2 separate regions of the Homo sapiens genome follow, and region 1 is linked to region 2. The links come from fine-mapping of genetic effects on gene expression. Tissue or cell type: whole blood. Region 2 holds a variant in brackets; the other region holds the start of a gene. All regions are shown on one strand. Distances are from middle to middle.

Region 1 (8,096 bases), 540 kb before region 2:
CTAAAAAACATTTAGGCTTGGAGGAGGGGGTGTGTGGAGATGAGAGAGATGTGTCACTTGGCCTGGTCCTGTGTAATTTGACCAATTCTGGATACATCTGACCCAAATAAATATATTCAAAAAACTATTATATATACCCTTCTGGTGCTTTAGAGAAGCCAGATTGGAATCAGAATTGTAAGTAATCAGGATTTTTTGTTAATGGGAATTAATCAAAAGGAGAATTGAAACAAAAGAAAGAATGTGCATAGTATGAAGAGAGCTTATGGCAGGAACTCCAACATTTGAGTAGGAGGTGGGTCAAGGAAGTGGACCTAAAGAATGACCAAGATGTGACTGAAGAGTCCTAAGAAAAAAAAAAAAACAGGGTGGTTTTTAGTAACTATAGCTTATTAGTGTATTTCCAGAAGAATGGAGTGGTAAATACTGTTACATGGCACAAAGAGGTTAAGCTACGAGAATTGAAAATGTCAGCTGGGCGTGGTGCTCACACCTATAATCCCAGCACTTTGGGAGGCCAAAGTGGGAGTATCACCTGAGCTCGGGAGTTCGAGACCAGCCTGGCCAACATGGTGAAATCCCATCTCCACTAAAAATACCAACAAATTAGCTGGGTGTGGTGGTGGGTGCCTGTAATCCCGGCTGCTCTGGAGGCTGAGGCAGGAGAATCGCTTGAACCCGGGAGGTGGAGGCTGCAGTGAGCCGAGATGGCGCCACTGCACTCTAGCCTGGATGACAGAGCGAGACTCCATCTCAACAACAACAAAAAAGAATTGAAAATGTCTGTTGATTTAAGAGTGTTTTTTAAACTTTCTTTTCCTTAATGCCTGCTAAGGAGCCCTTTTAGACTCCATCTTCTCACCACCCTGCCAATCAAATTCCTCACCCATAAAACTTTTTATTATTCTTTCTTTTTCAACTGTAAATTGACAAATTATAGTTGTATATATTTAGGGGTACCAGATGTTATGATTTATGAAATGTGGAATAATTAAATGAAGCTAATTAATATCACCATAAAATTTTAATACCACAGAATATTCTCTGTTTATGTATTGTATTTGTGCTTTACACATAAAAAGAGTATTATATTTTTTTCACCTCACAAGAAGCAGTTTTTATCTGCTTTGAGAATGCATGATTTAACACACAGAGGACACTGGTGATCTTGGTAAAGGTAGTTTTGGTGGGCTGGGTGCGGTGGCTCACACCTGTAATCCCAGCACTTTGGGAGGCTGAGGCGGGCAGATCACGAGGTCAGGAGTTCGAGACCAGCCTGGCCAACATGGCGAAACCCTGTCTCTACTAAAAATACAAAAGTTAGCTGGGCATGGTGGTAGGCGCCTGTAATCCCAGCTACTCGGGAGGCTGAGGCGGAAGAATCACTTGAACTCTGGAGGCGGAGGTTGCAGTGAGCCGAGATTGCCATTGCACTCCAGCCTGGGCGACAAGAGCAAGACTCCATCTCAGAAAAAAAAAATAGTTTTGGTGGTAGTTCAGTGGAATGCTAGAAATAAGACATTGCAGTGGGCTGGGAAATAAATAGCAAGAAGTGTAAAAAAATAGAGATATGTAGAGTAGATTCAAGAAGTCTAGCTGTGAAGAGGATGAAAAGACAGGAAAATAAATGCAGCAGTTCATAAAGTGAAGGAAGAATACATTCAAATGCTGAAGGAAAGGTGTGAATAGAGGGGGAAAAGCTGACATAGGAGAGAGGGAAAAACGGAAAGAGGACCCTGACATAGCAGGAGAGGATGCTACTGAGAGACTAGGTCAAAGGGTTTGCCTTCTCTAAGGAGAAGGAACACTTTCTACTCTTCAGATTGAAGGGAAGGTTTGTATACTTGACTGCAGGCAGATGATGGCTCTCCTTCTCTGTGTAATGGGAGAGAGGTCATTTCCAAAGGGAGAGAGAAGTCCTCTTCTCTGTAAATACCATGTGCTACTCATGAATTGACACAGTACTGAGCTACTTAAAAATATTTAAATCTGCAAAGAACTCCCATAGCGTATGTGTATATGTATTTTTTTTTAAGAGATAGGGTCTTGTTTTGTTGCCCAGGCTGAAGTGCAGTGGACCAATCATAGCTCACTGTAACTTTGAACTCCTGGGCTCAAGTGATCCTTCTGCCTCATTCTGCCTCTACCTCCTGAGTAGCTAGGACTACAACCACATGCCACAAAGCCTGGCTAATGTTTAAATTTTTTGTAGAGATGGAGTCTCGCTATGTTGCCCAGGCTGATTTCCAGCTCCTGGCCTCAAGTGATTTTCCCGCCTCACCCACCCAAAGTGCTAGGATTACAGGCGTGAGCCACCGCACTCCATCTGCCCATAGTATATTGGTTTGTTTTTTTTTTTTTTGAGACGGAGTCTTACTCTATTGCCAGGCTGGAGTGCAGTGGCGCAATCTCAGCTTACCACAACCTCCGCTTCCTGGGTTCAAGCGATTCTCCTGCCTCAACCTCCCGAGTAGCTGGGACTACAGGCACGTGCCACCACGCCCAGATAATTTTTATATTTTTAGTAGTGACGGGGTTTCTCCATATTTGCCAGGATGGTCTCGATCTCTTGACCTCGTGATCCACCCACCTCAGCCTCTCAAAGTGCTGGGATTACAGGCATGAGCCCTACCGTGCCTGGCCGTATATTATATTAAATGGTTAGAAATAAAAATCATAAGATTAAGTAAGAAAATATAATCTTGTTGCAAAGAGAGCTTTCCTAAAGATACGTAAGGTTTTTTTTTTTTTTTTTTTTTTTTTTTTTTTTTTTTTTTCGAGGCAGAGTCTCGCTCTGTCGCTCAGGGTGGAGTGCAGTGGTGAGGTCTCAGCTTACTGCAACTTCCGCCTCCCGGGTTCAAGGGATTCTCCTGCCTCAGCCTACCAAGTAGCTGGGACTACAGGCGTGTGCCACCACACCTGGCTAATTTTTGTATTTTTAGTAGAGACAGGGTTTCACTATGTTGGCCAGGTTGGTCTCGAACTCCTGACTTTGTGATCCGCCCGCTTCAGCCTGCCAAAGTGCTGAGATTACAGGCGTGAGCCACCGCGCCTGGCCAAGATTCGTAAATTAAGATAATTCTTCATTAACCTCATTCACTTCACTTCTCCTATAGTGTCAATTGAAAGTGTCCCTCTGTCTTTCCCAAATTAATCCTTTCACTTGTAACTTGATCCCATTCCTTTCCTTCTCTTCTGGGAGACAAGACTTTTTCTTGAATCTTCAAATAGTTGCTTGCTTCCTGCCCCCAAATAGATATCTTGTATTCTTTAAAACAAACCCCAAACTTTCCCCCACCTTGCCACTCTCAATAATCTTGCTTCATGCCCCAAATGATGAAGGATTGGTCTACACTTGCAGTCTTTCCTCAGTTACTATTAAAGCATCTCTCTCAAACAGCTCAATGACTTTCTAATTATAAAATCCAACGACCTATTCTGATTTCAGCTTCCTCCTCTGACCATTGCAGCATTTTATGTCATTGATAACTTTCTCCTAAACAAAAATACTTCTTACCCTTTTATATGAAACTTCATCTGTTTTGGGTCTCACCTTGAAAGTCTTTCGGGCTTAATTCTCATAATTTTTTTTAAAGTCTTTCTACAATCTCCATGTAAACCACTGTTTCAAATTCGATAAAACTCAAACTCCATAAAATACCTCCTCCTGTCACTGGCACCATCTTCTTAATCACACATAAGGCTGTAAGTTTCAGGTTCAAACAAATCTACCAAATACAAACAGCCACATCGCCCGTCACTCTTCCACACTCACTGCCACCTGCTCAGCTTAGAACCCCGTTACCTCTCTCCTGAAGAACTGCAACACCCTTCTCACTGCATTCCTCACCCCAGGCTCTTCCAGGCACCACCCGCTAACAGGACGTCTGCTCAGGTCCGTTTGGGGTTTTGTCCTCCAAAGCAGAAACCTGGGACTGAGATTCCTGCCGTCTGTACTCCAGCTCACTATAGAGGGGGAACCCAGTAAGCTTGACCTCCGGGGCTCAGGCGCCTGAGAACACTGGGCTGCAGGTGGACCGCTCCCTTCTGGCCTTGCTGGCGAGAAAGCCCGGAAGGCCGGGAGTGGGGGGGAAGCGAGGCCCGGGCCAACAGCACCAAAGACGCTCCTAGAGCCCAGATCGGAGTCGGGGGCCCCAGCTATTCAGCCTACTCCCGGGTTTTGGAGCTGTCCCCAGTCCACAGATTTCCCGCCCCTCACACTCACCCCAACACCTGTGCCAGTCAGTGATTCGGCGCCGGATCCTCTCCTACCGAAGCTGGAGAAGCCGAGAAGGCCGCGAGGACCCGCAGCTGGAGTGCCCAGGAAATTGCCTGATTAACAGCTTCAAAGACACCGACTCTGTCTACCGTATTAGAAATTTTAAATATGCAGGAAGACCGTAAATGAGAGGAAAGACGTCTCTTGAGGCTTAGTATCTAAATCTTCTACATAATCCAGGGCCTAGAAAAATGGTGGGTTTCTCTCCATCTAGATTCAGGCGGTCATCTGCTGCCTAACGCAGTCTGGGGTCCCTCATGGTAGGGGAGGCGGGGTCAGGAATGGGCGGGGCATTCGCTGTTGGTGCCGACGGATAGAGCCAATGATTGTGGATGACAGCGGCACAGAATGGGCGGAGTCTGGAGGGGCGGGATTTGGAGAAGAGAAAGCGGTGATGCGAAGAGGGGGCGGGACCAGAGAGTGGATGGCAGAGGTGGGCTGTAGAGCCAAAGTGGGGTGGGAGCGCGAAGATGGCAGCTGCTGAGGAGGAGCCGAAGCCCAAAAAGCTGAAGGTGGAGGCGCCGCAAGCGCTGAGGTGAGCGCTGCCGGACTTGGGGAGGAGGGTGACGGCGCTGCAAGCAAGCCAGGGCCCACGTGGGGTTGCACGGCCCCGACGCTGGGTGGTGTCTCTCACTGCCAGCTTGGGGCCAACACGCAGGACCTCCCCCAGCTGCCCGCTTGGCCGCGACCCCTTGCCAGACGTTCTCTCCGTTTGGCTGAGTCCCCGCCTGTCTGGTGCAGCTCCGGCTCCAGCAGCCCTTCGCCAGTCGTGGCCCGCAGGGGGACCGAGCTGGCTGACCGCGCCACCTGCGAGCAAGCCCAGGCTGGGCTGGTGCGACCCCGGAGGGTCGGACCGGAGCAGCGTCTGTAGGCGGCCGCCTTCTCTTCCCGGGGGATGGCGGGAAAGAGGCTCGGCAACTGCTGTACACTGGGGCAAAGTCAGAATTCTTGGGGATTTTTCAGAGTGTTGCGGAAGGGCACGTTGACCTTCCTTTTCGTGCACATTCTGAAAGCCCGTACCTTTGAGGACCCTCTACCAGGGACCCAGACCCCTCCGATGCTTTGCAGGGGCAGCATTTGGATGAATGGATAGGAAAGGTTGATTTCTCTTTTTTATTTACACTTTTTGGCAGCAACGGGGACAGTGCTGCCCCTAACACCTGCCTCACATGTGATTGATGTTGCAACTTTTACTTATGAAGAGTCATTTGTTAAAATATCCCTTCCTAATAAGTATAAAGTGAAGCAGGCAGTCTTTGATGATTTGGAAATGTTCGCTGAAAGGCAGCGATTTTTTTTTCCATCTTAAAATAGACATATCAAACTGATTTAAAACTATTAGGACACTCCTGATTAAACAGGACATATCCCATTTCTTCCAGTATCACTCTTCTTCACCTCCAAAGGAAGGAATCACTCACAATTGAAAAGAAAAGGACACTTAGGGGCCTGGTGGTGTGTTCATGCTGCTTTGAATGGAGGGTGAACAAATCCTTGCCAGTTCCTTTAATGTATTCCTACTACCCTCAAAGGGTTAGTGTGCCTACCTTATACCAAGAACATAAACTTTAAAATAAAAACCCTCAGGATATTCTATTTTTATTTTAAATATTCCAACTATATGCAGAATAAAAAGCAACGGCTTTTGAATCAGACCTACCTGAGTTCAAGGCATGTGCTTTCCCTACTCTGCCCTTTATTAGAGTATTTCCTTATAAGGCACCTCCTTCGCCAAACTGGAAGACAGATGCAACTTTTCCCTACCATCCTACTGAACATATAACCCTTAGATTTCCTTAGATTTTTCCTTAATAAAAATTATTATATATAATGCTGATCCATTTTCACTGTGTTTTCCTATTTATTATCTTGTTGGACAGTTCTGTGATCAAAGGAAGGCAAGAATTATGCCTATTTTACAATTGAAGATATTGAAGCCCAAATAAAACAATTAGTACAGGAACAGAAATAGGAACTAGCTGAGCATGTTTTCTTATACCTGCAGTCCTGGTGCTTTGTGAGGCTGTGGTGAGAGCATTCCTTAGGCAACTAAAATTCACTTTATACAATATGAATTTAGTGCCACCTGTAGACATGAAGTTAAAAGATTAGACACTTGAGTACTGGGACAAATCTCTAATTTTGTGGGGAGACATTTTAGGATCGGCTATTATTACTTTTATTATATTAATTTGCTTTCAGACTCAAAGTGTGATAATGCATTGAGTATTTACACTGAATTTATGATGACTTGCTTGACAGGGGATTGCTACTGGTTTTGGTTAAGGAGAATGGATTATAAAGACTTTGCATAATTTAATGTGCAGCATCAGTGGGAACAAATAATGAGATATATTTGTAGATGTCAGGAAAAATATTTAGATTTAGGGATTTGTGAGAATTTGGTCAGCTCTGGGATAATAATTCTCCACCAGGGGAAATTTTGCCCTCCAGGGGACATTTGGCGTGGTCTAGAAAGATATTTTTGGTAGGGAGAGCTATTGGCACCTAGTGGATGGAATTCAGGGGTGCTGCTAAACATGCTACATAGGACAACCCCCACAACAAAGAATTATCTGGCCAAATACGTCAACGGTGTTGAGGTTGAGAAATCTGTTCTAGAGGGAGCATCTGACAAGACTAGTCTGCCTTTCTCAAATATCTATTATTTTTCTAGGCTCGGTTGCTTTTCAGCATATAACAGTTGCTTATAAAGAAAGAATCAGGCTCTGACATGTTTTCACGTGGGATTAGGGGAAAGAAGGGAACGTTAATTGAGTGCTAGACATTATACTATGTGCTCTATATATGTTATCTCTTTTAACCCTCCCAGTGACCTATGAGGTAGGAGCAATGATTCCTGTGTTACAGACGAGCTATTTTGTGATGAAAGAAGTGGAGAAACATTTTTGGGAACTGCTCCCTAGATGAAGGTGTTCCATGATGATCACTTATATTTAAGACAACTTAGTTTTCTTTTCTCTCCTTTGGAAATCTCATCCAAGTTCATTTCTTTAGCGATCGCCTCTTAAGAGGCTACAGTGCCTTCCAAGGCTTGTTGAGCACGTGCCAAGTCTTTTCCTTCAGTTTGTCTTTCAAGTACATGCTATTTTAGACATGGTGTTAAAAACTGGATATATATAGAGAGAGAAAGAGGTAAGGCACAGGTACCATCCTCTTGGTGGGAAATAAGTGGGGTTTGGGAAAATGACACCTGAGTATTCTTAAAGATGACTAGGAGTTAACCAGTCATCTGTGACTGTAGGGTATCTGTGAAGTAGGGTATCTGCCTTATAGGAAAGTTTGTTTGGTGGCAGAACTGGGAGAGAGCTGCCTCTTGGGGAAGTGCAGATAGTCTGACTGAAGCAGAGATGTATGGGGTCCAGGCTTTGTATTAGACACTCTCACATGTGTCCTTTCTATCTCTGTGCCTCTCAGTTCTCAGATCTTAATTTAATTTAATTTTGTATATATTTTTGAGTTGGAGTCTCACTCTGGCGCACAGGTTGGAGTGCAGTGGCACCATCTCGGCTCACTGCAACCTCTGCCTCCTGGGTTCAAGCAATTCTGCTGCCTCCGCCTCCCAAGTAGCTGGGATTACAGGCGTACACCACTATGCCTGGCTAATTTTTGTATTTTTAGTAGAGACGGGATTTTGCCATGTTGGCTAGGCTGGTCTTGAACTTCTGACCTCAAGCGATCCACCTGCCTCAGCCTCCCAAAGTGTTGGGATTACAGGTGTGAGCCACCGTGCCCTGCCTTCCCAGACCTTAATTTTTACTGTCTGCTGAGTATGTGCTTCTGAGTGACTTTCTGA
Region 2 (8,105 bases):
TTTGATATTACTCATGGATAAAGAACATTGGTAACTTAAGTGAGTGAGCAAGGGTGGGGTGAGGGATGGAGGCAGCAGGGAAATCATAGAATTATTACAATCAGGAATGCAAATGGTTAATTAGATCATTGCACCCAGTCCTTAAGGATCTGAGCCAGAGCCATGGAGAATACCAAACGAGTCTGAGGTAAATTCTCCATGGCTTGTCACAGTGTCTTCTGAAGACCATAAACATACAACAAAGTAAGTTGACAAAGCACGCAACAGATCAATGAGTTTGGGATATAATGCATGTAATTTTAAACAGTTCCTTTTATTTGGGGAGGTTTTTCTTTTAAGTAAATACTAAGAATTTTTTTTAATTGAAAAATATTTCACTCATCTCATTTTCCAACATCCTGAGGTTATATGTGTGGCCTATGGGGTGAGGATGTGTAGCACTGGGAACTCTCATTTATTGCTGGTAAAAAATGCAAAATGGTAAACAACCACTTTGGAAGACAATTTGGCAATCTCTTACAAAACTAAACATACTTTTACCATATGATCTAGCGATCAGGCTCCTTCGTTGCCCAAATGATTTAAAAACTTACGTCTTCACAAAAACCTGCATGCATATGTTTATAGCAGTTTTATTCATAATTGACAAAACTTGGAAGTAGCTACATATCTTTCACTAGGTGAATGGATAAACATTATCGATACAATAAAATATGATTCAGCCAACAAAAAGTAATGAGCTATCAGCTGGGCATGGTGGCTCACACCCGTAATCCCAGCATTTTGAGAGGCAAAGGCGGGCAGATCACTTGAGGCCAGGAGTTCAAGACCAGCCTGGCCAACATGGTGAAACCCTGTCTCTACTAAAAATACAAAAATTAGCTGGGCATGGTGGCAGGCGCCTATAATCCCAGCTACTTGGGAGACTGAGGCAGGAGAATTGCTTAAACCCAGGAGGCGAAGGTTGCAGTGAGCTGAGATCGTGCCATTGCTCTCCAGCCTGGGCAACAAGAGCAAAACTCTGTCTCAAAAATAAAAAAAAGAAAGAAGGAAAGAAATGAGCTATTAAGCCAAGAAAAGACATGAGGGAACCTTAAATGCATGTTGCTAAATGAAAGAAGGCAGTCTTAAAGGCTACATACTGTGTGATTCTAACTACAGTCATGCACCACATAACATTTTGGTCATTGACAGACCACATATATGGCAGTGGTCTCATAAGATTATAAAACCTTATTTTTACTGTACCTTTTCTATGTTTAGATATGTATAGATACATAGGTACTTAACATTTTGTTACAATTACCTAAAATTCAATAGAATAACAGGCTATACAGGATTGTAGCCTGGGAACAATAGGCTATACCATCTAGGTTTCTGTAAGTACACTCTGATGTTTTCACAATGACACAATCACCTAGTGATCCATTTCTCAGAATATATCCCCGTTGTTAAGCAACTCAAGACTGTATATCACATTCTAGAAAAGGCAAAACTATGGAGACTGTAAAAAAGTCAGTAGCTACCATGGGCTGGAGCTGTGGCGCAAGGAGAGAGGGATGAATAGGTAGAGAGCACTGAGGATTTTTAGAGCAGCAAAACTGTTTTGTGTGATACTTTAATGGTGTATATTATTATATTTGTCAAATCCCACAGAATATACAACACAAAGTGTAAGCCCTAATGTAAACTATAGATATTATTTAATGATAATATGTCAATAATGGCTCATCGATTGTAACAAATACACCCACTAACTAATGTAACAGGTTAATCATAGGTGGAACTGGGGAGTAAGGGGATGAGGGAAGATTTGGGAACTCTCTGTATTTTCTGCTTCATTGTTTTGTAAACCTAAAACTGCCCAAAAATATAAAGTCTAATTTTTTTAAACCCAAGTGGGAAAACCTTTCTTCGATCCATCTTATTCTACTGACATCTTGGGTGTGTATGATGGTCTGTGTTTCCCAGTGTCATCAATTTCACTGCCTTAAGGTGCTATGGCTTAGACTTGTGTCCTGTGGCCAGTGACCTCACAGTTTTTACCAAAATACTTGTTTTCATTGCTATCACGTGATAGCTACTCTAAGTATGATTATCCTTCTTAATTCTGTTAGGAATCCCCCCGGCATTCCCTGTGAGGGAAGTATTAGTCCTTGAATTTCCGTTTCAAAAGATGCGTACTGATTTACTTGGTATATAGCTTCTGTAAGAGGAAGTTTCATTTGGGAAAGAAAGGTTGTGCTAAGGTTCCCTCAGAAACTTTCTAAATTGCCTTCTCTAAAATTGCCTGTGTTTCCCTAAGCCTAAGAGTAAAATACAGGAAATAGTGATGATTTTTATGTGCTTGAGGAATCTTCTAAGAAGAGTGACCAATTTTATTCTACTTATACTGATACTTGTACTGATTTACCTTGTGGAAAATTCATCCAGTGGCTACAATTACTAACTCACTCCAAAGGCATGAGTGGGAAACTATTAAAATAACACATCACTTAGCTGAAACTCTTGAATGGTTGCTCTTAATAACCATTTTTCTGAATAATTTAAAGTTCCCATGTTTTTTAAAAAGGTTTATTGACTTAGATCTGATTTGAAAAGTGTAATGTAGCTTATTATAGAATATTTAAAACATAAGAAAAACAAACAGGAAAAAAGTCATCCCAACTCTAGAAACTTAACTTTTTTCAAACACATTTTTTTTTTTTTTTTTTTTTTTTACTATTTTGACTAAACATGTTTCTAAATGTACTTCTTGGATCTGACTAAAGACTAAAAATGGAAGGAAACACAAGTAGAAATTATAAAGTCAGGATCAGGCCAGTGTGGTAGCTCATGCCTGTAATCTGAAAACCTTGGGAGGCTGAGGTGGGAGGATCACTTGAGGCCAGAAGTTGGAGACCAGCCTGGGCAACCTAGTGAGGCCCCATCTCTACCCCAAAAAAAAAAGAAAAAGAAACTTATTTATTTAATTTCCTCTCTTTAAAGGTATCATATGCAAAACAGAAGGTTTGGGGGTTTTGGGGTTTTTTGTTTGTTTGTTTTTTGAGACAGGGTCTCCCTCTGTAGTCCAGGCTAGAGTACAGTGGCACAATCATAGCTCACTGCAGCCTCAAACTCCTGGGCTCAAGCAGTCCCCACTACCTTAGCCTCCCGAGTAGCTAGGACTAAAGGTTTACACCACCATGCCCAGCTAATTTTTCTATTTTTTGTAGATACAGGGTCTTGCTGTGTTGCCAGGGTTGGTCTCAAACTCCTGGGCTCAAGCAATTCTCCTGCCTCAACCTCACAAAGTGCTGGGATTACAGGCATGAGCTGCTGTGCCCAGCCAGAAGTTTTCATTTTAGCACAGTTTAATCTTTCACTTTCTGGTTTCTGCTTTTTGTGTGTCTTATTTAAGAAATATTTTCTACCTCTAGGACATAAAGATATTTTTTATTTTCTTCTAAAAGTCTTACTATTTTTCCATTTACATTTAACTCATTGATAGACCTGGAATTCTTTTTTTTTTTAATATAGAGTGAGGTAATGTTATTTTTCCAAATTGAAAACTAGTTGCCTAAACACTACTTTTCTAAGAAGCCATCTTTTCCCCATGAATTTGCAATGGCAACTCTGTTGTAGCTCAAGTTTCCACCTTTTCTCTATTTATTTATAGCTATGCCAACAAACACTGCATTTATTATTATAGATTTTTAGAAGTATTTAATCTGGTAAGACTAGTCTCTCCTATCATTTTTACTTCAGTAAGTGTATATGCCTGTTCTTGATCCTTTGCTTTTTCATATAAATTTTAGAATCAACTTATCAGGTTCCCAAAAACATTGTTGAGACTGTGATTGAATTTGTATTGAATGTTATCTTCTTCTCCAATAACCCAGCATATCTCTCCATTTAGGTCCTTTGTAATATCTTTCCATAAAGTTCTATAGTTTTCTTTATTAGAGGCTGGCATAACTTGCATCGCTTTTGTATTTTTACCAAATTACATTTTTAAAACTGTTGCTCTTGTATATATATATGTGTGTGTGTGTGTGTGTGTGTGTATGTGTGTATGTGTGTATATATGTATATGTATATATGTATGTATATTCTATATACAAAGCTGCTCTCAATGAAAATATTGACAAATTTATTTCTTCTTTTACAATTCCTGTGTATGTGTGGGGTGTGTGTGTGTGTGTGTGTGTGTGTGTGTGTGTGTGTGAAGATCTCGCACTGTTGCCCAGGATAGAATGAGTACAGTGGCATGTTCACAGCTCACTACAGCCTCATCCTTCTGGGCTCAAGCAATCCTCCCACCTCAGCCTCCCAAGTAGCTGGGACTACAGTCATGTGCCACCATGCCCAGATAATTTCTGTATTTTTTGTAGAGCCGAGGTTTCAATTTCTTACCCAGGCTGGTCTTGAACTCTTGGGCTTAAGCGACCTGCCCACCTTAGCCTCCCAAAGTGCTGGAATTACAGGCACAAACTACTGCACCCAGCCTCCCTTTACAATT[C/G]TTAAATTTTTTTTAGTCTTGTTACTCTTGTTAGGGCTTCCCCACTATGTTAAATAGTATTGATTTTTTATTTTATTTTATTTTTTGATACAGAGTCTTACTCTGTTACCCAGGCTGGAATACAGTGGCACAATCTCAGCTCAACACAACCTCCACCTCCCGGATTCAAGCAATTCTCATCCCTTAGCCAACCGAATAGCTAGGATTGCAGGCACACACCACCACACCTGGCTAATTTTTGTATTTTTAGTAGAGATGGGGTTTCACCATGTTGGCCAGGCTGGTCTCGAACTCCTGACCTCAAGTGATCCACCAGCCTCGGCCTCCCAAAGTGCTGGGATTACAGGTGCAAGCCATTACGCCTGGCCTGATTATTATTATTTTATTTTTATTTTTTATTTATTTATTTTTGTTTTTGTTTTTGTTTTTTTTTGAAACGAACTCGTTCTGTCACCCAGGCTGGAGTTCAGTGGCCCGATCTCGGCTCACTGCAAGCTCCACCTCCCGAGTTCATGCCATTCTCCTGCCTCAGCCTCCCGAGTAGCTGGGACTACAGGCACCCGCCACCACCCCCAGCTAATTTTTTTTTTTGTATTTTTAGTAGAGACAGGTTTTCACCATGTTAGCCAGGATGGTCTCGATCTCCTGACCTTGTGATCTGCCCGCCTCGGCCTCCCAAAGCACTGGGATTACAGGCATGAGTCACCATGCCCAGCCCTCATTATTATTTTTAATGGGACTGTGTATGTTTTCTATTTATTTGTAATTTTACTGTTTCCCTTTTTCCACATTTTCTGCAGTTATTGGGTATGACTTTTATAATCAGAAAAACAATATTTTCACTTGCTTTCTTAAAAATAAATAATCTCTTAGTGAAGGCCTGAGGGGTCCTTATAGGTGTAATATGGATGGCCATGGAGCTGCTATGGCTTCAGGCTTTATATATATGAGGTATTGCTGTCTATTCACAGTATTCTCTGACCTTTAAATTTATGTGGCTTAAAATCTATTTTCAATGCATAAACATTTGTATATTTTTCCAGGTGAACAATGTACTACCTAGATGTATAATAATTTAAATTTAGTGTAAAATGAGATTTTTTACAACAAATTATATATTTCCAAAAACTTTAAAATGTTTAAACTCTACATAGGCATATGGTGGTCTACTATATATAAAAGGTTTCTGGGAACTATTTAAGAAGATAAAAATAGAGCCACTGACATGTATTTGTACTGTATCTTTGGGAAAACAATTTCAGCGTAATATATACTTGTAAAAAGTGAATTAGTAAAACTATTCTGGCCGGGCACAGTGGCTCACACCTGTAATCCCAGCACTTTGGGAGGCTGAAGTAGAAGGATTGCTTGAGCCCAGGGGTTCAGACCAGCTGGGCCACATGGTGAGACTCCATTTCTACAAAAAATAGAAAAGTTAGTCAGGCATAGTGGCACACACCTGTAGTTCTAGCTACTCAGGAGGCTGAAGTGGGAGGATTGCTTGAGCCCAGGAGTACAAACAAAAACAAAAAAAACTTTATTCCTCCAAGTTTAAAAAGTGCAGCTTGCTTACTTGTTGACAAGCTGCTGAATATAGAATGAACAGTAATAGAGTCTACTGGGTTTTAGGTTCCAGCTACCATGAAAAACTATTAAGGAACTATAAATAGAAAAGAAAAAATGGACTCATAAAGACTTTGTTCATTTCCTTCTAAAATATCCCTAGCTTATTAAGTGTCTCCATTAAGGCTTCCGTACCCACTGACAATATTTCTTGATTCTCTGTAAATGACACTAAGAAAATTCTAGATGCTATAGCTCTTCTATAGTAACTACATGGAATAGACAGCTTAAGTTAGGAAATTACATTGCCTTTTGAGCACACCAGCAATCCTACCTCTGTGTGCTTTGAGGAAACTAGTGTAGCACCTCCTCTTTTTGTACAACTTTAACATATGTTTCAGGTCTCATGTCAAATACCAGATACAATTTGTCAATTTATTGATCACATTTTGTAACATCAGTAAAAGTCTAAATAAAATCAACCAGAAGATAATAGGCTACACCAATTGTTAATGAACAGAGGTTTATTTGGAAAGATTGTTCCAGGATTCAGAGCCAGCTAACAATAGCTCTAGGAACCCAATTTATTGTCGATGAGAGATTCTCACCTTATGCCTCGTCAGCTAGAGGACCTAAAGTCTATAACGTCTCCTAAAGCTGGGAAAAGCCTGAGAGGCCCAGGTTGATACGCCTATGTGTAACAGGATAGAGAGAAGGAACCAAAGTAAAAAGGCAACAACAACTGCCTCAGCATATGAGTTCTTGATTTGGAAAAACCTGCACTGATGGTTCTTGTTCTCTGGTGTAATGCCTCCTATGCCTGCTCTCTTGGCTGTGTTGAAAAGCATACATACAGAGCTGTGCTCTTCATTTTCAAGATGATGTACTGATAAGGACCACAAGCCAGTGGCACTGGGAAAAAGGGATCCTAAGAGACTTTTTCTTATTAAACATACATTCAAAGTCAGTTATTTAATATTTTGCTTTTTGGACTCTTGGTAAGCCCAAATCTTGTTCTAAAAAGAGCAGACTTTTTTGTTTTGTTTTGTTTTGTTTGAGATAGTGTCTCACTCTCTCTCCCATTCTGGAGTGCAGTGGAGCGATATGGCTCACTGCAGCCACAACCTCCCAGGCTTGGGTGATCCTCCCACCTCAGCCTCCTGAGTAAGTAGCTGAGACTACATGTATGTACCACCACGCCTGGCTAAATTTTTGAATTTTTTTGTAGGGACGGAATTTTGCCATGTTGCCCAGGCTGGTCTCAAACTTCTGGGCTCAAATGATCTGGGTGCCTCAGCCTCCCTAAGTACTGGGATTACAGGCATGAGCCACCAGGCCTGACTTGTTTTTGTTTTTTTGTTGTTGTTGTTGCCCAAACTAGAGTACAGTAGGCTCAATCACAGCTCACTGCAGCCTCAACCTCCCACCTCAAGCAGTCCTTCCACCTCAGCCTCCCAAGTAGCTGGGATTGCAGGTGCATGCCACCACGCCCAGCTAATTTTTTTTTTTTTTTTATGTAGAGACGAGTCTCCCTGTGTTGCCCAGGCTGGTTTCCTGGGCTCAAATGATTCTCCCATCTCAGCCTCCCAAAGTGCTCAGATTAGAGGTGAGGCATGAGCCACCCAACCTAGCCTTTTTTTTTTTTTTTTTTTTAATACCTGCAAGCCACATTTATCTGCTATAGTGTTTACCAACCACACTCTGGGGCCTGAGGCTGTGTTTCAGTGAATGAAATATTAAAAAGTACTTTGTTTACTTGCTGACACAGTACAGTATTTGTATCTATTAATAGCATATTGTTATTGTTGGTTTTTTTTTTCGAAAAACACTTTATTGGAATAATATACTTAAAATGCAGGGAACTTTTAAAAATAGAGTGAGGCCAGGCATGGTGGCTCACACCTATAATCCCAGCACTTTGGGAGGCCGAGGCAGGCGGATCACCTGCAGTCAGGAGTTCAAGACCAGCCTGGCCAACATGGTGAAACCCGTCTCTACTGAAAATACAAAAACTAGCTGGGTATAGTGGTGCATACCTGTA

What was found. PIP is the estimated chance that this variant, and not a neighbour inherited with it, causes the effect.
Region 1: AP3M1 starts here. The variant in region 2 is fine-mapped to the expression of AP3M1 in whole blood (INTERVAL, PIP above 0.99).

The regions. Positions count from the first base shown.
Region 1 is chr10:74,146,530-74,154,625 of GRCh38, forward strand. It overlaps AP3M1 (adaptor related protein complex 3 subunit mu 1), which reads right to left and starts at 4,299. Exons shown (of 9, transcript NM_012095.6): 1 at 4,226-4,299. ADK (adenosine kinase) reads left to right here and starts at 4,692. Exons shown (of 11, transcript NM_006721.4): 1 at 4,692-4,814. The coding sequence starts at 4,750. RefSeq lists enhancers at 4,223-4,452, 4,863-5,042.
Region 2 is chr10:74,691,452-74,699,556 of GRCh38, forward strand. The region is part of intron 10 of ADK (adenosine kinase); the gene reads left to right. Among named protein-coding and RNA genes, the nearest start is that of KAT6B, 130 kb to the right of the region's middle. The variant C/G (reference allele first, on the strand shown) is at 4,502.